Homo sapiens: one gene and its partners. The protein of the gene in region 3 interacts with the protein of the main gene of each other region in a pairwise test. Each region holds a gene or a part of one and is shown on either strand. Other genes may lie near its edges. The genes, in order: SNRPA, RBM47, OTX2, TBCEL, TNPO2, IQGAP1 and HIKESHI.

Region 1 (2,344 bases), on a different chromosome or scaffold from region 3:
CGCCCCATGATTTCAGCAGCACCAAGTTTCCTGTATTAAATTCCTTTCTGTTTGAACTACCTACTGTGGTTTCTCTGGGGCCATTGCTACAACAGGCTGCACTTTTGAGAAGAGTAAAAAAAAGGTGAAGAAACACCTCTCCCTGAACACTCTTGTCATCTGTTAGAAAAGTGGTGGCATAAACTTGTAAGCCTACAAAGTGAATGGTGTGCCCTTAAAAGGTGCCATTCTTGTGCAGTACCCATCCTGCCTAACTGTACGCGGCAGCCCTGACTTTCCATTTCCTGACCCAGGATTCCATTTCCTGCTGTGAATTGGGACAACATACAAAACTGCCAAAGTAGTCATTGTAACCTGAGTTTGAACAATATTACTACACTATCCTATGTTTCCCCAAGGTTGCAAACCTCAAAATGCCAAGAGGTCCAAAAACCCAGGATGTGCTGCTGAGGTGGAGGGAAAGGAACCATGAAGAGCAAGAAAATCAGACAGACAAATGATTGTGAAAAACCAAACCTCAAAAAGCCACTTTAATTCCGGCCTAACAGCGCCAGGTGCAATGTCTGGGGACAGACTCTGGGTACAATGCTGTGTGGCGACCACTCACTCACACACGGCTCCAAGAAGGCCCCCAAGGGGGGACTTACCTTCAGGGGGCTGAGCCAAGGGGGAAAGGGGTGGCCCCAGAACAGGGGAAGGGGCAGGCATGGGGGGAAAAGGTGCTACTTCTTGGCAAAGGAGATCTTCATGGCGTTGTTCTGCGTGATCTTAAAGCCCTGCAGGGCATCGCGAGCTGCCCCTGCCTGTACCTCATTGTCAAACTCCACGAAGGCGATGTCATGCCGCCCGGGTACCAGACGGACCTCCTTGAAGCCAGGGAACCTGAAAGAGAACGACAGACCTCAGGGACTCAGCATTTCCCCCTAACGTAACGGCATCAAGTGGACAGAGGCCAGAAATGATGCCAAATAGCCTCCAATGCACAGGGCAGGGCCCCATTACTCAGAATTATCCAGCCCAAAATGCAGATAGTACTAAGTTGAAAAACTCTAATGTAAACATAGCATTTAATGAAAAATTTAAACACAAACACCCATGCAACTGCAACCTAAATCAAGAAACAGTACACCGCAGTCTCCTGGGCCCTTCCTAAATCATAACCCACCCGCCACACCAAAAAAATAACCAATACCCTCACTTTTTCCATTTTTATTCTTGTATTTTTAGGAGAGAAGGGGTTTCACCAAGTTGCCCACATTGGCCTCGAACTCCTGACCTCAAGTGATCCACCTGCCTCAGCCTCCCAACATACTGGGATTTTAGGCGTGAGCCACCGCACCCGGCCTTACCCTCACTTTTCTGATATGCTGTTTCTCTAATTTCCCTCTTCTCATTCCATACTTCTTTCTCCATTAAGCAGCCATCCTCATGTTTACTAGGTATCCTTTTTTCCATCGGCATTCTCACAAAATATACAGCTTTGTGGACAGGCTGCACATGTGGTATTGTTTTTCTGTATTTTTCAGGTTCTCACAATCTTCTCTCGGCACTATTATAAAGTTGCGCTTTCTGTTCTTCTAAGTGCCACGCAGTGCAGCATGGTGAGATGCTGCATGTAGCCATCCCTTCTCCCAGACACCCTCCAACTCCCCACCACAAACACTGACGAATGCCCCACTCACAGCCCCTGAAACAGAACCACCAGATGAACTCACCCACACCCACGACTTCACTCAACAATGGTGAACAGCCCCTCTACACATCGGCTGCACCGGCCTCCACCCTGACGCCAGGCACAAGAGTTTCACGCATCCCCATCTCCCACACTTGCTGTTTCTGAGCACGCTGACTTCTGCCAGTCTTAGCCAATGTTCAAGGACATCTCAATGCAGTTTTACACATACCTTGCCTTGCATGCCCCCATTTTAGGGGCTGGGAAAATGAGGCCCAGAGCCTGGACTCCCTCAGCCCTCAAACAAGGCTGAAAAAAGCCGGCAAGCCCTGGCCATGGAGACCTTTCCAGCCTCACCCCCATGTCCCCCACAGGCCGTGGGCCCAGCCACAGCCTCCTCCTTTCACATCTTTGGTCGCTGTCCCTTCTGCAAAGCCCTACTTGGCTCAGAGCTCTGCTGGCAGAGTTCTGAGGCCTGTTTCCATGGAGATGCCTCCTGGCCATCACCCTCCAGGGACCACCCAGCCACAGGCCCCACTTACTGATTGAAAAGCATGGACAGCATGAGCTCGTTGGTCTCCTCTGGCAGGTTGGTGAGGAACAAGATGTGATTCGGTGGATTCTCAGAAAGCTGCGGGGGTATAGGGGAGTCGGTGAGCACAAGAGCCCTGA
Region 2 (3,500 bases), on a different chromosome or scaffold from region 3:
GCCTCAGCCTCCCAAAGTGCTAGGATTACAGGCATGAGCCACCACACCCAACCAAGAAATTTCAACATTAAATCTGAACATGAAGACCTTTCCCTTCTTCCAAATGGAAGATAAGGATATATTTTTAAGAGGACTATTTGCATAAACACCCATGTAGTTACAATCTGTGACCTAGGCAGGAAATGCCAGGTACATATATAAATACATAGGAGACAATTCAAGATCTTACCTGTTGTACTGTATACAACATTAACTGACTAAAGTCCAAGGGAATAGAACTTATCTCTCTGCTGAGATAGGTGGAGTTGCCTTCCTGTCACCCTAACTGTGCTTTGAAACTACTATTCTACCTACAAAAACAGTCTTACAGTAGTCAGGCTACGGAGTCATTGCCAATTCCAACCCCAATAATATAAGAAAAAATCCTGTTTGCTTTCAGTCTGAAATCTGCTGGTGTCAGTAACACAATTATCTCTACATATTTTAAAATAGCGATAGCTTATTTCTTACATCAATGAGCCAAGAAAAGCCTTTCTTCACCTATGCTATCATCTTCTGTAATAAACAAACCATGTTAGCGACCCTGTTTTTATTTTTACTTTGGCCTCTAGGAAGTTCACGATTGATTTTTTTCACTCCAATTTTAGTAACTGTAGGGGACATTACAACACACTTTCATGTTCATCTAATTTGGGTTATAGTTTCATTTTTTAGTTTTCTTCTATTTTTTCAGTTTTCCCAGTGACATGAATTGAGCTGTTTGTATTATTTATCTTATTGTTCACATGTTCTTATAAACCATGTTGTAATTTTGGAGGAGACGAATCAATGCATACATACATGCATATATATCTAATTACAGCCAGACATTGATTAATGCAATATCCAAATTTGCTGTGTCTCTTACACCAACTACAAGTATTGCATACCAACAAGTGAGAACCACAATGAGATACTACTTCACACTCATTAGGATAGTTATTATAAAAACAACAAAAAACAGGAAATAAGCATTGGCAAGGACGTGGAGAAATTGAAACCCTCATGCAGTGCTGGTAGGAATATAAAATGGTACAGCCGCTGTAAAAAACAGTATGGTGGTTCCTCAAAAAATTAAACATAGAATTACCATTTGATCCAGCAATTCCACTTCTAGGTATATACCCAAAAGACTCAAATAGATACTTGTATAATGATGTTCACAGCAACAGTATTTACAGTTGCCAAAAGATGGAAGCAACCCAAATGTTGATCAATGGATTATGATAAACAGAACGTGGTATACATATACAATGCAGTATTATTCAGCCTTTTTTCTTTTGCTTTTTTTTTAGACAGAGTCTCACTCTGTCACCCAGGCTGGCGTGCAGTGGTGCAGTCTCTGCTCACTGCAACCTCCACCTCTCAGGTTCAAACAATTCACCTCAGCCTCCCAAGTAACTGGGACTACAGGCGCACACCACCACGCCCAGCTAATTTTTGTATTTTTAGTACAGGTGGGGTTTCACCATGTTGGCCAGGCTGGTCTTGAACTCCTGACCTCAGGTGCTCTGCCCGCCTCGGTCTCCCAAAATACTGGGATTACACGTGTGAGCCACCGTGCCCGGCTTATTCAGCCTTGAATAAAATTCTGATACGTGCTACAATATGGAAGAACCTTGAAGACATTATGCTAATAGTGAAATAAGCCAGACACAAAGGGATAAATATTATATGATTCCACTTATATAAGGTACCTAGAGTAGTCAAATTCATAGACAGAAAGTAGACTAGTGGTTACCATGGGCTGGAGAAAGGGAGGAGTGGGGAATTAGTGCTTCATGGGTGTGGGTGTCTTAATTAGGGATAATAAAGGTCTGGAGATGGATGGTGGTGATGGCAGCACAACAGTGTGAATATACTTCCTGCCAATGAACCATACACTTAAAAATGGTAAAATGTTATGTATAATATACCACAGTAAAAACAAAATCCTTTAAAAAAAAGAAAAGGTTCAGAGATGCAAAAAAGACAAAAATTAGAGTTGATAAAACTAGGATTTCATTAGAGGCCATTAAAAAATGATACACTGGGCTGGGCACAGTGGCTTACACCTGTAATCCCAGCACTTTGGGAGGCTAAGGTGGGCGGATCACCTGAGGTTGGGAGTTCGAGACCAGCCTGACCAACATGGAGAAACCCCATCTCTAATAAAAATACAAAATTAGCTGGGCGTGGTGGCACATGCCTGTAATCTCAGCTACTCAGGATGCTAAGGCAGGAGAATCCCTTGAACCTGGGAGGCGGAAGTTGTGGTGTGCTGAGATGGCGCCATTGCACTCTAGCCTGGGCAACAAGAGTGAAACTCCTTCTCAAAAAAAAAAAAAAAAAAAAAAAAAAAAAAAAAAAGGTACACTGACTCAGGTTAACACATTCAAGAAAATCTTATGGCCTACAAGTTTTATTCTCCTTATCATCATGTTTAATATACCATATTAAATAAATTATATGGTGTGCTACTCTACTCAATGAATTCAGATGCCAAACACTTAGATATATTAAAAGATAAATGAGGCTGGGCTCAGTGGCTCACGCCTGTAATTCTGGCACTTTGGGCGGCTGAGGCAGGTAGATTGCTTAAGCTCAGGAGCACGAGACCAGCCTGGGCAACATGGCAAAACCCCATCTCTACAAAAAGTACAAAAATTAGCCGGGCATGGTGGTGTGTGCCTGTAGTCCCAGCTATTTGGGAGGCTGAGGTGGAAGGATCACCTGAGCTCAGGAAGTTGAGGCTGCAGTGAGCTGTGACTGCGCCACTGCACTCCAGCCTAGGCAACAGAGTGAGAACCTGTCTCAAAAACAACAACAACAATAACGAAAAGGAAAAGATTTTCAAGTTACTTTGAAAAAGACAACTGTACAGCTAACATGACCCTTCTCTCAAAGATGTAATGAAATGCTTAACTTATTGTAATTATATGTGCTTTAGATTAGCATTGGCAAGCTATGGCTGTGGGCCAAATATGGCCTGCTGTTTGTTTCTATAAATAAAATTGTATTGGAACACAACCCTATCCTTAAAAAAAAAAAAAAGAAAAGATAATGTGTGGCTGCTTTTATACTACAATGGCAAAGCGAAATAGTTGAGACCCAGACAGTGTGGCTCATAAAGCCTAAGGTATTTACTCTCCGGCTCTGTTGACCCCTGGTCTAGGAGATGTGGAAGAGCGCATCCTTGAAGCTCTTAGATTCTGCTTGCTACGTATAATAGTTTTCCTATGCTGAATGATAACTTAATTTCAGGACTAATTTTTAAATTCTAACTGTTTTTTTTTTTTTTAGATGGAGTCTCACTCTGTCATCCAGGCTGGAGTGCAGTGGTATGATCTTGGCTCACTGCAATCTCCACCTCCAGGATTCAAGCGATTTATCTGCCTCAGCCTCCTGAGTAGCTGGTATTACAGGTGCGTACCATCATGTCCGGTTAATTTTTGTATTTTTAGTAGAGATGGGGTTTCACC
Region 3 (3,500 bases):
GTTAGGCTCTCCAAACTCAATTTCAGAGCAATCCTGATGAAAGTCACAAAAAGTCTACCTACCACTGTCATTCATATCTATTTTATGCATAGATTAGCAAAAAAAAAAAGTAAAAATAAGTTTGCTAATTTACTCTCTGTCCTAAGAAAAACGTGTTTTGGGGAGGAAAGGCTGAATGTAGGCTTCTTATTCATAAATAGCGGTGTAAAATTAAACTGGACCCAATGTTGTGCTAGAACCATTTTAATATAATTATACATATCTGCCAAATCCAGGAAGAAAAGGTTTATGCATATATAACTTTTCCATTTAACATCTGCAAGCATAAACGACAATGATCTCAGTTTAATAATTCATCAGGGTCAGAGCAATTGACCAATGTCTCTTTACTGCTAGGCTTACCAACAGTAAATTACAGATGAATTAGTGTCCTTTTGCTTCTCTTCTCTGACTCTCTTTGTCCAGAGACATTTTGTCGTAAAGTTTCAGTGCAGCTCACCTCCAGCCAAAGGTAATCTTTTTAGATCAGTACTCAGTTGCTCTGAATTTTGCTTATAATTATAACCTATTTAATCACAGAAGAACCCCTGCAGAGGTGGAGTTCAAGGTTGCATACAATAACAGGAGATCACAGTTTTGAAGTCTAGCACAGATTAAAAACCACAGATGTACCATTTATAAGACACACACTGATTGTCTCTTAAACTACATATTGACTCCTTATGAACATTATTTTTTAAATAAAGTAGTGCATCTAGGACAATCAGTCACACAATTCACACAGCCCTGAAAAGTTTTTTCAGTGCCAACTACCAGTTGGTCATGAAACGTGAATGAGCTTGAGACACTGTTCATTCCTAAGATTCAACCAAGGATTGGCTAAAACAATGGAACACCTCTGCTTAAGAAGGCTATGACCTTCCCTCCCTTCCTTCACAACTTAGTTTTGTTTGATTTTATTTTTGGTGGTGTTTGGTTGCACATGGCTAGAATGCTTTTGATCACTTTGCAAATCAGGATAACCAATGATCTAAAACTATGACAGGATCTTAAGCAGATTGGTTTGTCCATTTCATGTTGCTGGTTTGTAGGCCCCTCTAAGGCCCTTCGTTTTTCCTTCTATGCCTCTCGGAACTTTGATCAGATGAGTCTGAGCATCATCCCATCTAACTCTTTTAACCAATGCCTGGCTAAAACTGGAATGTCCAGCCCAGTATATTTAAAAATCACCCACAAAAAGAGGTTCTACAGGTCTTCACAAAACCTGGAATTTCCACGAGGATGTCTGATCTTTATAATCCAAGCAGTCAGCATTGAAGTTAAGCTTCCAGGAGGCAGTTTGGTCCTTATAATCCAAGCAATCAGTGGTTGAGTTAAAACCCAAGCTTGAAGCTCCATATCCCTGGGTGGAAAGAGAAGCTGGGGACTGATTGAGATGGCTGGTGACTGCATTGGTACCCATGGGACTGAGTGTGGCCCCTGGTCCGGGAAGCTGGTGATGCATAGGGGTCAAATATGATCCACAGTCCATGCCCCCAAAGTAGGAAGTTGAGCCAGCATATCCTTGACTATAACCTGAAGCCTGAGTATAGGTCATGGGATAGGACCTCTGCATGCAGGAAGAGGAGGTGGACAAGGGATCTGACAGTGGGGAGATGGAAGCTGGGCTCCAGATAGACACAGGAGCACTGCTGCTGGCAATGGTCGGGACTGAGGTGCTAGAGGGGGGAGTGAATTGGCCACTTGTTCCACTCTCTGAACTCACTTCCCGAGCTGGAGATGTCTTCTTTTTGGCAGGTCTCACTTTGTTTTGACCTCCATTCTGCTGTTGTTGCTGTTGTTGGCGGCACTTAGCTCTTCGATTCTTAAACCATACCTTGGAAGGGAAAGAAAATTCTTTAACTCGGTTTTGATAGTTCCTTAAGGACAAGAATGGCTCCCGTATTATAAATCTATCCTACATGGGCAGATCAGCTAAACACACAATTTCCCCTGCCACTGAAGACCTATTATGTGGTACTCTCATATAAACTCCTGGACTTGTAAGAAAGTTGGGGAGGCTCTGTCTAAAAACACTTGACACTGTCTTATTTCTTGCCCAGAATAACATTTAAGATAATCCCCCAAATCATATAGCTAAAAACTCTCCACATCACTTTCCTATCTTATTTCGCCTCTAACACACACATACACATAGACCCAGCTATATTTTGGAACACTCTCACAGAGGAATAGAATGTATCTCTGTCTTTTGGAGGGAAATACATGAGAAGTGAGAGAAAGCAATTCTGTTGTTACAGGCTAACAGGAACAGCCTAAATTCATTTACAGTTCATCTTCCAGGAAGCAACTGCTAATATAGAGGTTGGTTGGTTCCATCACCCTTCTGTCTCTCTTAGAAAGACTCACAGAACAAAGCTCCAAGGGGAAGACATGATCTTGTTGAAGAAAGAGGTCTGAAAGCCACTATTTGCTAAAAGCTTCTTTGTGGTAAAAGGAGTGACTTACATGCACTCTGCTTTGAGCTGGAGCACAGACCTGCTAGTCTCTGGGACTCGAGTCTGTGTTGTTAGAGTAGTGCCACTCAGCACATAGACTCAGTCTCCTGTGCTGTGTTTACTGACTTACCACTTCAACCCCCTGCTGCAATCTTGACAATTCTCTTTACCAGCCCTGTTCATGTTCTGCAATGAAGGAGCTATGATTGGTGTACGAGGGGGCTTAGAAGAGGAACTACTGGCATTTTCTGGAGGACAAATCCTTAGCTGAACTTTTGAATGAGCTCTCTGTATGGGTGCCGTAACTGTGGTAAAAGTGAGGCCACCAAGGCCAAGCTCAAGACCACCAACCATTTGGAGCCATTTGTTTTCTCCTAGTGAGGACTTTGGTTCAAGCCTTGCAAGTGCTAAAACTTCCTCTAACCTACTTTGAAAAAGCCCCTTTCCCAATTTGCAGCTGACACTGATGTCTGTCGCTTTCATAAACATATTCTAGCCGAAGGAGAGGCCCAGGTGTGTATGTGGTTTATGTGCTAAACACTTTGCAGAGAATTCTGTACAGGGCTCACTCACAAGGCAAGCTGGAGTTGACCTTCCCTCTCCAGTTTAAGGTCAAGTTTAGGGGAACTAAAACAAGAGGGGTGTCACTAGAGACATTATGTAGATATTTTATCTGTTAAATGGCTCAGAACTAGAAAATTCTCTTCAATCCCTAAGAAGTCAAGGAAAATACATTCTTTTTGTGTTGATTTATTTGGTAAAAGCACCAGCTGCGTCTATACCCTGACTCTGCCACCAAACTTAGTTATGACCTTGAGCAAGTCATTTACTCTATTTTTTCATCTGTAAAAATACTTGGACTGTCCAAGAGCTAAGCTGCTTTCACACGTACAAGTCCATGAGAATAGGAGAGGATTTCTATACAGAGGAAGGGAAGGGTTACAACACCACGTGACTACTCTTGAAACCTGCTCAAGGATGGGTCTCTCTCCACCAGCAACC
Region 4 (3,500 bases), on a different chromosome or scaffold from region 3:
CCTGTGTAACTAATCAGCAAGACCTATCAATACCACATCCAAAATATCCCAATTTTGCCCAATTTTGTCCATCTCTATTACTTTATTCTTGTTCAAGCCATCATCAACTTCTCACCAGGACCTCTGCATTAGCCTCCGCCCTGGTCCCTCTTGACTCTTATACAAATCATTCTCCACAAAGCAGCCAAGTGATCTTTTCAAAATTTAAGTCAAATCATGTCCTTTACACTCTCCAATGGCTCCCCTTCACATGCAGAATAAAATCCAATCTCTTCATCATGGTCGCCAAGGATTCATTTAATCTGATCACTGCTTACATCTCTAACCTCATTTCCTCCCACTCCTTTCCTGGCCCACTACTCAGCCTCCGTGGTTTTCTATTTCTCAGACTTGCCAAGCTGATTTCCCCCTACAGCCTTTGCATTTGCAGGATTGCCCTTTTCCTGTCTCTTGGCAGAGCTGCTTCATCTCAGTGTTTAAGTCTCAAATTTAAACACAAATGTCACCCTCTCAAAGAGGCTGCTTCTGACCACCCCATCAAAAATAGCACTACTGCCACCATCACTCATAGTCACTTCACCCTCTGTCATTCTTTATAGCACTTATCATAATCCGTTAGTTCAGTGTTTGTTCTCCAGCAGAAGATAGGTCCCACACAAGCAGGGATTTGTCAGTCCAGTTCAGTTTTGTGCAGAGCAGTGCCTGGCATATGATTAAAAAATATTCATTGGATAAATGGAAAAGTGAATTTCATTATCAATAGACATGAAGCAACACCTTCTGACAGTGAAATGAAAATGAAGCTCACCAATGGCAGAATGAGAAGAAAAATTTTGAAAATCACCGGAAACGCATTATTCCAAGAACAGTTTTAAATAACTTTTCACAATAGTACTTGTTATGGATCACATTCCTAAGAATGATTAGTGATTAATCAAAGTTTCACACAGTTTTAAGATCCTGAATTTGGGAAATGGGCTACCTGTTTAAATTTCATTTTTAGAAGAGCACTGTGATTAAAAGCATGGTCTTCAGTTAGTTCTGAGTTCACTTATGACTACTGTGTAATTTGAACAAGTTACTTACCTATCTCTATGCCTGCTTCCTCACTTGTAAAATGAAGCTATTAATAGCCATTTCACAGTTATTGTGAAGACTACATGAAATAAAGTTTTTGAAGCATCTAGTTAAGTACCTGGCATGAAGTAAGTGGTCAATAAACTAGTTATTATTGTGAAAGCTGAGACGTCCAGACAAATGGAGGAGCTGATATGAGTCAAATAAACAAACATCCTCCCCTTTTGGCAGAGGTGGGAATACATGCCAGGATTAAATCGTTTTTCCCTCCAAAAAGACAAATGTACACAAAGGTAATATATAAGAAGCATGGACAAAGGACTTTGAGAACACTGAGGGAGTGACTGTCTTCACTAAGGAGGTCAGTCACATGTAAAACTGAGTTTTACAAGACAGCAGCAGAAATGTACTAGATGAAAAGAAGGGGAAAGCATCTGCACAAACACAAATGAGTGAGAAATGCAAAATAAAGTGAGAAATGTAGTGTAGTTGGTGTAGAGTATAGAGTATATGTGGGAAGACGGCTAGAAAATAAAGAATTGGTAGGGCCAGATGGTAAGGGGCTAAGGTCCACCATTCAAAAGTTTGCACTTTATTCTTCCATCAGTGGGGAGATGAAGGGGAAAAATCCTAACATGCTAATTTGATACCAATTCTTCTAAAGAAGGCGGAAACACCTTTATGACTTTAAACACCACATAGGGCCACAATCTGTTAATGTAAAATAGAAAATATTTTAAGCCTTAGTTCTTAAAACCATATGAGCAATTTGTTTGTTAACAATGACTGATCTGGAACCTCTCTTCATGATGTTTTATTATTACTGCGGTGACCACTGTTGTGCTAGGCATCATCATGACAGCAGATAAAATCTATTGTAAGTTTATTATGTGTTGTGTACTGTGTTGTTTTATATGTATTATCTCACTTAGTTATCACAACACTTTTATAAGGGGTACTATTATCCCATTTTGCAGATCAGAAAACTGAAGCAGAGAGGTTACGGGCCCAGAGCTAGTGACAGAGCCAGGACTCAAATCTAGGCTGACTTCAAGGCCCTAAAATTAAACCAGTTTGCTGAATTATGATATTGCTCAGTTCATTAACATCACTTGCTGAAAAGTTATTTGAGTACCTACTGTAATTTAAAGCATCAGGCTAGGTCAGTGACTTTTAACTTTTACTGTATGGAAGAATCATCCAGACAGCTTGATAAAATGCAGATTCCTAGATTCCACCAGAGATTCTGATTCAGTAAGTCTAGGTCAGAATTCAGGGATCTGCTTTATTTTATTTTATTTTATTTATTTATTTATTTTTTTAAACAGTGCCTCACTCTTCTTGCCCAGGCTGGAGTGCAATGGTGTAATCATAGCTCACTGAAGCCTCAACCTCTGAGGCTCGTGATCCTCTGGCCTCAGCCTCTCAAGTAGCTGGGACTACAGGCATATACCACTATGCCTGGCTAATTTTTTAATTTTTCATAGAGATGGGTCTCCCTACGTTGCCCAGGTTGGCTTTGACTCCTGGATTCAAGCGATCCTCCTACCTCGGCCTCCCAAAGTGCTGGGATTACAGGTGTGAGCCACAATGCCTTGCCGGATCTGCATTTTTAACCATACGTTCAGTCAATTCTGATCTACTTGGTCTATGAACTACGCCCTGGTAGACCCTGTGCTAGATGTCCTAGTTTTTCATGGATATTTGAGCCTCCTGTTCACCACGCATTTATAATCTAAAAGGGATAAAAATAAGGTGCACAAATAATACAAAGCAATATAGCAAAGGCAGTACAGACAACATAAGCAACAAAGACTTCAAAGAAGAGGGGTCATCTGAAATGAAATGAGAGTGAGTAGGATTTCATGAAGAAAGGGAACATTTTATATGCAGACTTTCAGGGATAATTTTACACACAAAGGAAGGTACATGAGCAGAGGCCTTGGCAGGTAGAGGAACTGCATTTAGGAGTGTAATGATGATGCCAGAAAAAAAGTAGAGGAAGTCTGTAGAAGGCCCTAAATATCAAGCTAAACACCATGGGCTTTATTCAGTGCCTGTACTGGAAAGCAGCTAATGGTTTTTGAGGAGGGAAATGAAATAATCATAGCAATATCCTTTGGAAGAGTTCTCTCATGAAGCTATGCAAGCAAAAGACAATGGGAACAGTCCAGTTATTACCATTCTAATTCCAAAGAAGTAAGTCAGAATGGGTAGCATGAAAAAGGGAGGAATAGTAAATCTCAATAACTAATCACGTGTAGGAGAAAGGCAACAATCGCAAATAAGGATTCCTTCACCCTTTAAGCCCAAATTGTATCACTATCAGTTTCACATTACTTCTTATACAGCTAACCAGGCCCAAAATATATAAAGAGTTCACTTATTTAAAACACAGCCCAGGACTAAGTAAACTGGTCTCT
Region 5 (3,500 bases), on a different chromosome or scaffold from region 3:
GGTAGGAGGATTGCTTCAGCTGGGAGGTCAAGGCTGCAGTGAGCCATGATTTTGACACTCCACTCCAGCGTGGATGACAGAGCAAAACCTTGTCTCAAAATAAAAAAGAAAAAAATGATTTGGAGAGAGGCAAGCAATCCAAGTTTGTCAAGGAGGGTCAGTTTTAGGACTTTTGTTGGAAACACTGGTCGAAAATTTCTTTACTCTGAAGTTCCTAAGCTGGAAGGGCACAGAAGGCTACAGCACTACCCAGAGGGAAGGTTGTGCCTAAGAATGAAGCCAACACAAGGGAAGCAGATCTGAGACCACAAAGATGCCTTTCACATCCTTTGAGCTCCTGGATACAGCCATACCCCTGAAGCCTTTGTTGATTTTTCATTTCTTTTTTTTTTTTTTTTGAGACGGAGTTTTGCTCTGTCACCCAGGCTGGAGTGCAGTGGCACGACCTTGGCTCACTACAACCTCAGCCTCCTGGGTTCAAGCAATTCTCCTGCCTCACCCTCCCAAGCAGCTGGGACTACAGGCGCCTGCCACCACGCCCAGCTATTTTTTTATATTTTTAGTAGAAATGGGGTTTCACCGTGTTAGCCAGGCTGGTCTCGATCTTCTGACCTTGTGATCTGCCCGCCTCGGCCTCCCAAAGTGCTAGGATTACAGGTGTCAGCCACCACATGTGGCCATTGATTTTTCATTTCTTTCCACCTATCAGTTACCTAATTTTGAAGTCTTCAAAAAGTGGCATTCTTACCACTTACACATAAATATATACTGAATGTAAACTGACAAGGATGTGGACTGAGAGAAGCACAGCAGGTGACCAGAAGGGAAGGCAGAGGCATAGCAAGGGGTCGAAGCTGGGGTAGGACAGTGGGCAGCAGCAGCACTCACTGGACCAGATGGGAGGCCAGGACTTCCTTGCAGATGGGCTGCTCGGCCAGCGTCAGCCAGAACTCACAGGCCTCAAGGGCAACGTTCTCATCATGGTCCTGGGTCCTCTGCAGCATGTACTGTGGTAGGGGGGAGAAGCTGAGGCCTGGCCTGGCTGGGGGTGGCTCCCTGACCCCTGCCACCGGCCCCCTGCCTGCCCGCCTGGGCTGGCCTTGACCATGCACACCTGGATGATGCTGTGCATGTGGGGGATGAGCCTGTCAATCCGCACTTCCAGAAGCATCACCAGGGCACGGCACACATTCTTCCGCACCTCGGGGTCATCATCCACAGCCAGGGCAAATAGGTGCTGCAGGGAGGAACAGGGTCAGTTGTAGGGGCCCTCAGTCCTCGCCCTGCCCACCCCCAGCCCAGCGGCCCACCTCGATGAAGGTGTCAATATTGTCCATCAGCGCCTGGGCCCGGTCCATGATGAACTGGTTCACGCAGGCGATGGCGTGGGACCTGGCGGGGAGCAGACACGTGGGTCACCCTGACCCTGCCCACTCCAGGCTCCCTGGAAGCCCCCAGGGAGCTGCACCCACCGGATCTTGGGACTGCAGTGCTTGAAGAACTGCAGGAACTTGGGGATCATGATGTTGAGGGGCCTGTTGAGGGCGTCACTGTCCAGAAGCTCTGATGAGTCTTCACAGATCTTCTGCAGGGCTCCAAAGGCTCCCTGAGTGCAGAGGGGCAGAGAGACAAACGTGGGTGGTGGGTGGTGGTCCCAGCCCCCCAGTACTCGCTCTGGCCATCCATGGCTTCTTGCCTACCTCACAAGTGTTGTAATCCTCCGAGTTAAGCAGGTTGCAGAGCTGGGGCAGCAGCTCGGGCCACATCTGCAGCTCACCCTTGGAAGCGATGGTGGTGATGAGAATGCCTGGGGCGGCCGGGAAAGGACGCTGCCTGAGGCTGGGCAGGGGCTGCCTAGCACCTCCCCCTCCCACTGGACACCCCCAGTGCTGCCTTTCTGTTCCCTAGCCCATGTACGCCCTCTACATCCCCCCTCCTTTTTTTTTTCTTTGTAAGAGATAGAATTAGCTCTGTTGCCCAGGCTGGACTGCTGTGGCACAATCAATAGTCCACAGCAGCCTCAAACTCCTGGCCTCAAGCCATCTTCCTGCCTCAGCCTCCTAAGTAGCTGGGACTGCAGGCACATGCCACCACGCCCAACTAATTTTTAAAATTGTTTGTAGAGATGGGATCTCACTATGTTGCCCAGGCTGGCCTAAAACTCCTGGCCTCAAGCAATCCTCCTGCCTTGGCCTCCAAAAGCACTGAGATTACAGGCGTGAGCCACCGCTCCTGGCCTTGACATAGGTAGAAGGGTACTCCTTGACTCAGTAGGCACCCTGAGCCTTACTGTGAGTCAACTCTGTTCCAGGCCCTGAGGCACAGCACAGAGCAAAACACAAAATCCTCACCCTTGGGAGCTGGAAGCAAGCTATGAAGTAAAGATAAATTAGCAAAAAAAACTGGGAGGGGCCGTGCATGGGTGGCTCATGCCTGTAATCCCAGCACTTTGGGGGACCGAGGTGGGTGGATCACTTGAGGTCAGGAGTTCGAAACCAGCCTGGCCAACATGGTGAAACCCCATCTCTACTAAAAATACAAAAATTAGCTGGGTGTGGTGGGGGGCACCAGTAATCCCAGCTACTTGGGAGGCCGAGGCAGGAGAATCACTTGAACCTGGGAGGCAGAGGTTGCAGTGAGCAGAGATCGCGCCACAGCACTCCAGCCTGGGATGGAGCAAGACTCCATTTCAAAAACAAACAAAACAAAAACAAACAACTGGGAGGGGCCACATGCCAAGGACTAAGGGGGGAAATACAGCAGAAAAGATGGTGAGAAAGGGCTGTAGGTGAAGGTAGCAACTTTAAATTGGGTGGCCAGAGCAGGCCTCGTTGAGGTGACATCTTGATATCTGAGCCAAGGCCTGAAGGAGGTGAAGGAGGCGAGGGAGGAATCATCCAGGTTTCTGGGGAAAGGGCATCTGAGGCAGGGGACTCTATGGTGCAAAGGCCTGGCGTAAGGACAGGCATGATGAGAGAGGGAAAGGAGGTAAGGGCAGGAAGGTGGCAGGGATGCTTGTACTGCCTATTAGATATCCAGGAGTTACATACAGCAGGCATCTGAGGTGCCAGGACAGTGCACATATCTGGTGACAGAGCTGGATATGGGTTCTGTTAAGTGCAGAGATGGTATTTGCTGCCATGAGATGGCAGTGTTTCCCAAGGGTGGAAACTCAACGAGAGAAAGGTGCTCCCTGCAATGGGTAGGTACACAGTGAGGATTGTGGAACTTTAGCCACACCCCCTCATTCTGTGTGCCTCAGTGCTTCCAGCCCTCAGAAGAGATAAAGAAAACCAGCCTCCTAACTAAGGTTATCAGTAGGTTTCTTTTTCTCTCTTTTTTTTTTTTTTTTTTTTTGAGATGGAGTCTCACTCTGTAGTCCAGGCTGGAGTGCAGTGGCACAATCTTGGCTCACTGCAACCTCCACCTCCCGAGTTCAGGTAATTCCCCTGCCTCAGCCTCTGAAGCAGCTGGGATTACAGGTGCCCGCTGCCACACTC
Region 6 (3,249 bases), on a different chromosome or scaffold from region 3:
AATAGAAATTAAGAATCTATCAGATAGTATTAAGGTGACATTACTAGCCTTATCTCATTTCCCCGTGCTTAGTATATTTCATCATAGGTTTAAATGCTTCACCTTTTCCAGATTTATTAAAACTAGTGACCCATAACATGGATGAAATGGGAAAATGTCATTGTGACTTCTGAAATAAAAAGCTTAGATGTGTGTGGCAATTGAACATGTTTCTTTTTCTTTCCATGTATGATGAATTTTGATATGAACAACATGACTTCCTAACTCCAAATCAACCAGAAGCCTCCCTTGGCCAATGTGCCCTATTGCTCCAGCTCTCAGGCTGGTTGTGCAGTGGGTAGTTGCCTAGCGTGGAACTTTTCTTTCGCCCCAGTTCACATCTGGCACACAAGGCAGGCCTCAGTCCATCTGGATCCCTCCCTACATTGTGTCCTTTTTCCTTGTTCCACAGACTTGATTAACTGTCAAAATGTTTTGTTTTGTTTTGTTTTGTTTTGTTAATAGGACCTGCTGCAGCTACAGTATGAAGGAGTTGCAGTCATGAAATTATTTGATAGAGCTAAAGTAAATGTCAACCTCCTGATCTTCCTTCTCAACAAAAAGTTCTACGGGAAGTAATTGATCGTTTGCTGCCAGCCCAGAAGGATGAAGGAAAGAAGCACCTCACAGCTCCTTTCTAGGTCCTTCTTTCCTCATTGGAAGCAAAGACCTAGCCAACAACAGCACCTCAATCTGATACACTCCCGATGCCACATTTTTAACTCCTCTCGCTCTGATGGGACATTTGTTACCCTTTTTTCATAGTGAAATTGTGTTTCAGGCTTAGTCTGACCTTTCTGGTTTCTTCATTTTCTTCCATTACTTAGGAAAGAGTGGAAACTCCACTAAAATTTCTCTGTGTTGTTACAGTCTTAGAGGTTGCAGTACTATATTGTAAGCTTTGGTGTTTGTTTAATTAGCAATAGGGATGGTAGGATTCAAATGTGTGTCATTTAGAAGTGGAAGCTATTAGCACCAATGACATAAATACATACAAGACACACAACTAAAATGTCATGTTATTAACAGTTATTAGGTTGTCATTTAAAAATAAAGTTCCTTTATATTTCTGTCCCATCAGGAAAACTGAAGGATATGGGGAATCATTGGTTATCTTCCATTGTGTTTTTCTTTATGGACAGGAGCTAATGGAAGTGACAGTCATGTTCAAAGGAAGCATTTCTAGAAAAAAGGAGATAATGTTTTTAAATTTCATTATCAAACTTGGGCAATTCTGTTTGTGTAACTCCCCGACTAGTGGATGGGAGAGTCCCATTGCTAAAATTCAGCTACTCAGATAAATTCAGAATGGGTCAAGGCACCTGCCTGTTTTTGTTGGTGCACAGAGATTGACTTGATTCAGAGAGACAATTCACTCCATCCCTATGGCAGAGGAATGGGTTAGCCCTAATGTAGAATGTCATTGTTTTTAAAACTGTTTTATATCTTAAGAGTGCCTTATTAAAGTATAGATGTATGTCTTAAAATGTGGGTGATAGGAATTTTAAAGATTTATATAATGCATCAAAAGCCTTAGAATAAGAAAAGCTTTTTTTAAATTGCTTTATCTGTATATCTGAACTCTTGAAACTTATAGCTAAAACACTAGGATTTATCTGCAGTGTTCAGGGAGATAATTCTGCCTTTAATTGTCTAAAACAAAAACAAAACCAGCCAACCTATGTTACACGTGAGATTAAAACCAATTTTTTCCCCATTTTTTCTCCTTTTTTCTCTTGCTGCCCACATTGTGCCTTTATTTTATGAGCCCCAGTTTTCTGGGCTTAGTTTAAAAAAAAAATCAAGTCTAAACATTGCATTTAGAAAGCTTTTGTTCTTGGATAAAAAGTCATACACTTTAAAAAAAAAAAAAACTTTTTCCAGGAAAATATATTGAAATCATGCTGCTGAGCCTCTATTTTCTTTCTTTGATGTTTTGATTCAGTATTCTTTTATCATAAATTTTTAGCATTTAAAAATTCACTGATGTACATTAAGCCAATAAACTGCTTTAATGAATAACAAACTATGTAGTGTGTCCCTATTATAAATGCATTGGAGAAGTATTTTTATGAGACTCTTTACTCAGGTGCATGGTTACAGCCCACAGGGAGGCATGGAGTGCCATGGAAGGATTCGCCACTACCCAGACCTTGTTTTTTGTTGTATTTTGGAAGACAGGTTTTTTAAAGAAACATTTTCCTCAGATTAAAAGATGATGCTATTACAACTAGCATTGCCTCAAAAACTGGGACCAACCAAAGTGTGTCAACCCTGTTTCCTTAAAAGAGGCTATGAATCCCAAAGGCCACATCCAAGACAGGCAATAATGAGCAGAGTTTACAGCTCCTTTAATAAAATGTGTCAGTAATTTTAAGGTTTATAGTTCCCTCAACACAATTGCTAATGCAGAATAGTGTAAAATGCGCTTCAAGAATGTTGATGATGATGATATAGAATTGTGGCTTTAGTAGCACAGAGGATGCCCCAACAAACTCATGGCGTTGAAACCACACAGTTCTCATTACTGTTATTTATTAGCTGTAGCATTCTCTGTCTCCTCTCTCTCCTCCTTTGACCTTCTCCTCGACCAGCCATCATGACATTTACCATGAATTTACTTCCTCCCAAGAGTTTGGACTGCCCGTCAGATTGTTGCTGCACATAGTTGCCTTTGTATCTCTGTATGAAATAAAAGGTCATTTGTTCATGTTTGTGTTTTTCTCAGTTTCATTGTTAACAGTTCCTGCTAAACACCTTGACTAGAGTGAGATGTATCAGTTAAAATCACAACAGCAGACAACCCCTTCCTTTTAAAGGAGAAAACGTAAGTCCACCATCAGATCATTGAATGTCTCAAAGTGACTTTTAATGTGTGAACGTGTGACTTTAGCCTTTTTAATGAATATGCTTAAGTTATCTTCACCATAAAAAGAAGGGTGTTGCGGGAAGCAAACATTATATGTCACTTAATTCTGATTGACGAACGGTGGAAAGTTTAAAATTGCAACAGCATTTAACCTTTTTTGACCAGCATACTGTTGTTGAGCACATAGACTGTGCCCCTTAGGGGGTTCCTATGTCACTTGGAAGTCACCAGAAAAGACTAGGGGATGTTGAATGTGGAAAAAGTAAATCACAGCAGTAAAAAAAGAAGAAAAGGGGCTGGCGTAGTGGCTCACACCTGTAATCCCAACACTTTAGGAGGCC
Region 7 (3,500 bases), on a different chromosome or scaffold from region 3:
TCAAGAAACTCCAAGTAGGATAAACTACACCAAGACACACGATAATCAAACTGTCAAAAGGTAAAGAGAGAATGTTGAAAGCATCAAGAGAAGTAACTCATCACATGCAAGGATCCTTGCTAAGATTAATAGCTGATTTCTCATCAGAGACCCCATAGTCTTCTAGACGGTAGTGGATTGGCATATTCAGAGTTCTGAAAGGAAAAAAAAAAAAGCCATCAACCAGGAATTATATACTCAGCAAAACTGTCTTTAGAGATGAAGGAGAAATACTTTCCTAGATAAACAAAAACTAAGTCATTGCTGGCAGACCTGCTCCATAAGGAATGCTAAAGGGAGTCTTCTCTATTAATTATTTATTTTTCCCACACTCTGTTACTGTCTGTGTCTAGTTGCAGTAGTTTCAATACATTTCAGAAATGTGACAGCTATTTTTCTGGTGGGAAACTTTTAGTTCTTTTATTCTTTGTTAATATGCTAAAAACGAAGTAGGCTTTTGCATTTATCTGAAAAGAGGGACAAACTTGGACATAAAACTTTTTCATGTATATAAATTAGAGGTTCTTTATAAATTTACAAAGGAAATTGTGTGACTACAAGTTTAATTTGAAATGTGTGTCATATGTTAATTTCTTGCAGGAGAAGGAAGCCAACATCCTTTTGGAGCCATGAATATTGTCCGAACTCCATCTGTTGCTCAGATTGGAATTTCAGTGGAATTATTAGACAGTATGGCTCAGCAGACTCCTGTAGGTAATGCTGCTGTATCCTCAGTTGACTCATTCACTCAGGTAATGCAACATACATTTCATTCTTTACCTCCCCCTCCACTGCTTTATTAAGGTATAATATACAAGTTAAAATCGTAACTTAGGGTATACAATGTGATGTTTTTGATACATGTTTACATTTTGTTTTGTTTTATTTTGTTTTTGAGAGATGGAGTCTTGCTCTGTTGCCCAGGCTGGAGTGCAGTGGCGCAATCTCGGCTGACTGCAATTTCCGCCTCCCGGGTTCAAGCGATTCTCCTGCCTCAGTCTCCTGAGTAGCTGGGACTACAGGCACATGTCACCACACCCGGCTAAGTTTTGTATTTTTTTTTTAGTAGAGACAGGGTATTGCCATGTTGGCCAGGCTGGTCTCGAACTCCAGACCTCAGGTGATCTTCCTGCCTCGGCCTCCCAAAGTGCTGGGATTACAGGTGTGAGCCACCACACCCAGCCTATATTTTGACATAAAATCAAGCTACTTAACATATCAGTCACCTCACACAGTCATCATTTTTTTGTAGAGAACAGTTAAGATCTGATCTCTTAGCAAATTACAAGTATACATTATTAGTAACTGTATTCTCCATGCTGTACAATAGATTTTCAGAATTTATTCATTCCATTGAACTGAAACTTTGTGCCCTTTGACCAACATGTCCTCATTTTCCCTTCCCCTCCACTCTTCAACCCCTGGCAACCATCATTCTACTGTCTGCTTCTGTAAGTTCAACTTTTAGATTCCACATATAAGTGAGATCAATCATGCTATTTGTCTTTCTGTTCCTGACTTCTTAGCCTATTATCAAGAGGAAAAATTGATGATGTAGGAGAGCAAGGAGAACTGCTAAAGCAGTGTCCTTGAGTAGAAAATAGCAGCATATATGGAGGTGTTCACTTTAGACAGGATAATGGATATATGGGTACAGATTCAGGAGGCTGGTAGATGTGGTGATGAGAACTTGTGCAGGCTGTCTCCTGATTTCTTCTTGCTTAGTGAAATAGAAAGGACGATCATCAGCTAAGATCGAGGTAGTAGAAATTGAAATAAAAAAAGACTACTAAATAAGTCTTCTAGCAGAGGAGGAGTGAATGGATTAGGGAAACCATATGTGTTTGCCTGGCAGTACCAGAGGCGCACTTTTGAAGGTTGTGGTCATGAATGTAAAGGTAGATTTGTCACATCTTTGAAAATGGACTGAATTGAGAATGACAGACTCTGGGTCTCAAAAATGTTTTTTTTCCCATAATTTTACAAATAAGCTGCTGTGCTGAAAACAAACTATAAAATAATCGTAGTATCCTGTGTAGACAATATTTTAAAAGTGTCTGGAAAATACACATTAAAATGTTATCCCTGGAGAAGGGTAAGAAGACTTTTTTACTGTACATGTTTATAAATTATTTGAGTTTTTAAAATAAAACTATAGTTTTAATTAAATGTATTACGAAATATTTTAAATACAGAGAAAATAGAGTAACTTATATTTTCCACAAATAGTTATTATGTAACTACTCTGTACCAGGCATGTCTTTTTTTCTTTTTCTTTTCTCTTTGAGACGGAGTCTCACTCTGTCGCCCAGGCTGGAGTGCAGTGGCGCGATCTCGGCTCACTGCAAGCTCCGCCTCCTGGGTTCACGCCATTCTCCTGCCTCAGCCTCCCAAGTAGCTGGGACTACACGTGCCCGCCACCAGGCCCAGCTAATTTTTTTTGTATTTTTTCGTAGAGATGGGGTTTCGCCGTGTTAGCCACGATGGTCTCGATCTCCTGACCTCGTTATCCGCCTGCCTTGGCCTCCCAAAGTGCTGGGATTTCAGGCGTGAGCCACCGCGCCCAGCCTGTACCAGGCATTTCTAAGCACTCATAGATACAAATAGGTCCACAAAATAGAATAACACCTGTCTTTACAGAGCTCTCTTTATGGTGGGGTATACATTAAGACTTCCATTGTCTTCCCCCTGGATTTAACTGTTATATTTTGTCTTATTTGCCACTAATTTTTAAAAAAGAAATTAAGGCATTATAGATATAGCCCACTGCTGCCTGCTTCTCTTCCTGCCTTTTACCTTCTAACTTTTTATATCTTTCCTATTCATATTTTAGTACTTAAAAAAATTCCTGTGTATCCACAAAATATGTATAGTACTATCTGTATCTGTTTAAACATGTTTCTAATTTAATTACTTAGTTACTCCAAATTTTTATGAGTATTACATGTATTTGGTTTAAATAGTCAAATAGTTTTTTTTTATTATACTTTAAGTTCTAGGGTACATGTGCAAAACGTGCAGGTTTGTTACATATGTATATATGTGCCATGTTGGTGTGCTGCACCTATTAACTCGTCATTTACATTAGGTATTTCTCCTAATGCTATCCTTCCCCCTGCCCCCCACCCCAAGACAGACCCGCCCGCCGTGTGTGATGTTCCCTGCCCTGTATCCAGGTGTTCTCATTGTTCAATTCCCACCTATGAGTGAGGACATGCGGTGTTTGGTTTTCTGTCCTTGTGATAGTTTGCTCAGAATGATGGTTTCCAGCTTCATCCATGTCCCTGCAAAGGACTTGAACTCACCCTTTTTTATAGCTGCATAGTATTCCATGGTGTATATGTGCCACATTTTCTTAATCCAGTCTATCATTGGTGGACATTTGGGTTGGTTCCAAGTTTTTGCTATTGTGAATAGTGCCGCAGTAAACATATGTGTGCATGTGTCTTTATAGCAGCATG

The links.
Region 1: the proteins of OTX2 (region 3) and SNRPA interact in binary tests that used the Homo sapiens proteins (3 or more experiments, as listed by UniProt).
Region 2: the proteins of OTX2 (region 3) and RBM47 interact in binary tests that used the Homo sapiens proteins (3 or more experiments, as listed by UniProt).
Region 4: the proteins of OTX2 (region 3) and TBCEL interact in binary tests that used the Homo sapiens proteins (3 or more experiments, as listed by UniProt).
Region 5: the proteins of OTX2 (region 3) and TNPO2 interact in binary tests that used the Homo sapiens proteins (3 or more experiments, as listed by UniProt).
Region 6: the proteins of OTX2 (region 3) and IQGAP1 interact in binary tests that used the Homo sapiens proteins (3 or more experiments, as listed by UniProt).
Region 7: the proteins of OTX2 (region 3) and HIKESHI interact in binary tests that used the Homo sapiens proteins (3 or more experiments, as listed by UniProt).

The regions. Positions count from the first base shown.
Region 1 is NC_000019.10:40,763,546-40,765,889, reverse strand, and holds the end of SNRPA (U1 small nuclear ribonucleoprotein A), read right to left. Parts: intron 2,304-2,344; coding exon 2,215-2,303; intron 883-2,214; coding exon 723-882; 3' UTR 501-722; downstream 1-500. UniProt on the Homo sapiens protein: Component of the spliceosomal U1 snRNP, which is essential for recognition of the pre-mRNA 5' splice-site and the subsequent assembly of the spliceosome. U1 snRNP is the first snRNP to interact with pre-mRNA.
Region 2 is NC_000004.12:40,441,365-40,444,864, forward strand, and holds part of RBM47 (RNA-binding protein 47), read right to left. Parts: intron 1-3,500. UniProt on the Homo sapiens protein: Single-stranded RNA-binding protein that functions in a variety of RNA processes, including alternative splicing, RNA stabilization, and RNA editing. Functions as an enzyme-substrate adapter for the cytidine deaminase APOBEC1.
Region 3 is NC_000014.9:56,800,480-56,803,979, forward strand, and holds part of OTX2 (homeobox protein OTX2), read right to left. Parts: intron 1,877-3,500; coding exon 1,256-1,876; 3' UTR 1-1,255. UniProt on the Homo sapiens protein: Transcription factor probably involved in the development of the brain and the sense organs. Can bind to the bicoid/BCD target sequence (BTS): 5'-TCTAATCCC-3'.
Region 4 is NC_000011.10:121,027,102-121,030,601, reverse strand, and holds part of TBCEL (tubulin-specific chaperone cofactor E-like protein), read right to left. Parts: intron 1-3,500. UniProt on the Homo sapiens protein: Acts as a regulator of tubulin stability.
Region 5 is NC_000019.10:12,713,933-12,717,432, forward strand, and holds part of TNPO2 (transportin-2), read right to left. Parts: intron 1,808-3,500; coding exon 1,701-1,807; intron 1,607-1,700; coding exon 1,473-1,606; intron 1,393-1,472; coding exon 1,311-1,392; intron 1,238-1,310; coding exon 1,115-1,237; intron 1,008-1,114; coding exon 889-1,007; intron 1-888. UniProt on the Homo sapiens protein: Probably functions in nuclear protein import as nuclear transport receptor. Serves as receptor for nuclear localization signals (NLS) in cargo substrates.
Region 6 is NC_000015.10:90,499,491-90,502,739, forward strand, and holds the end of IQGAP1 (ras GTPase-activating-like protein IQGAP1), read left to right. Parts: intron 1-504; coding exon 505-618; 3' UTR 619-2,749; downstream 2,750-3,249. UniProt on the Homo sapiens protein: Plays a crucial role in regulating the dynamics and assembly of the actin cytoskeleton.
Region 7 is NC_000011.10:86,336,740-86,340,239, forward strand, and holds part of HIKESHI (protein Hikeshi), read left to right. Parts: exon of another isoform or gene 1-194; intron 195-639; coding exon 640-791; intron 792-3,500. UniProt on the Homo sapiens protein: Acts as a specific nuclear import carrier for HSP70 proteins following heat-shock stress: acts by mediating the nucleoporin-dependent translocation of ATP-bound HSP70 proteins into the nucleus.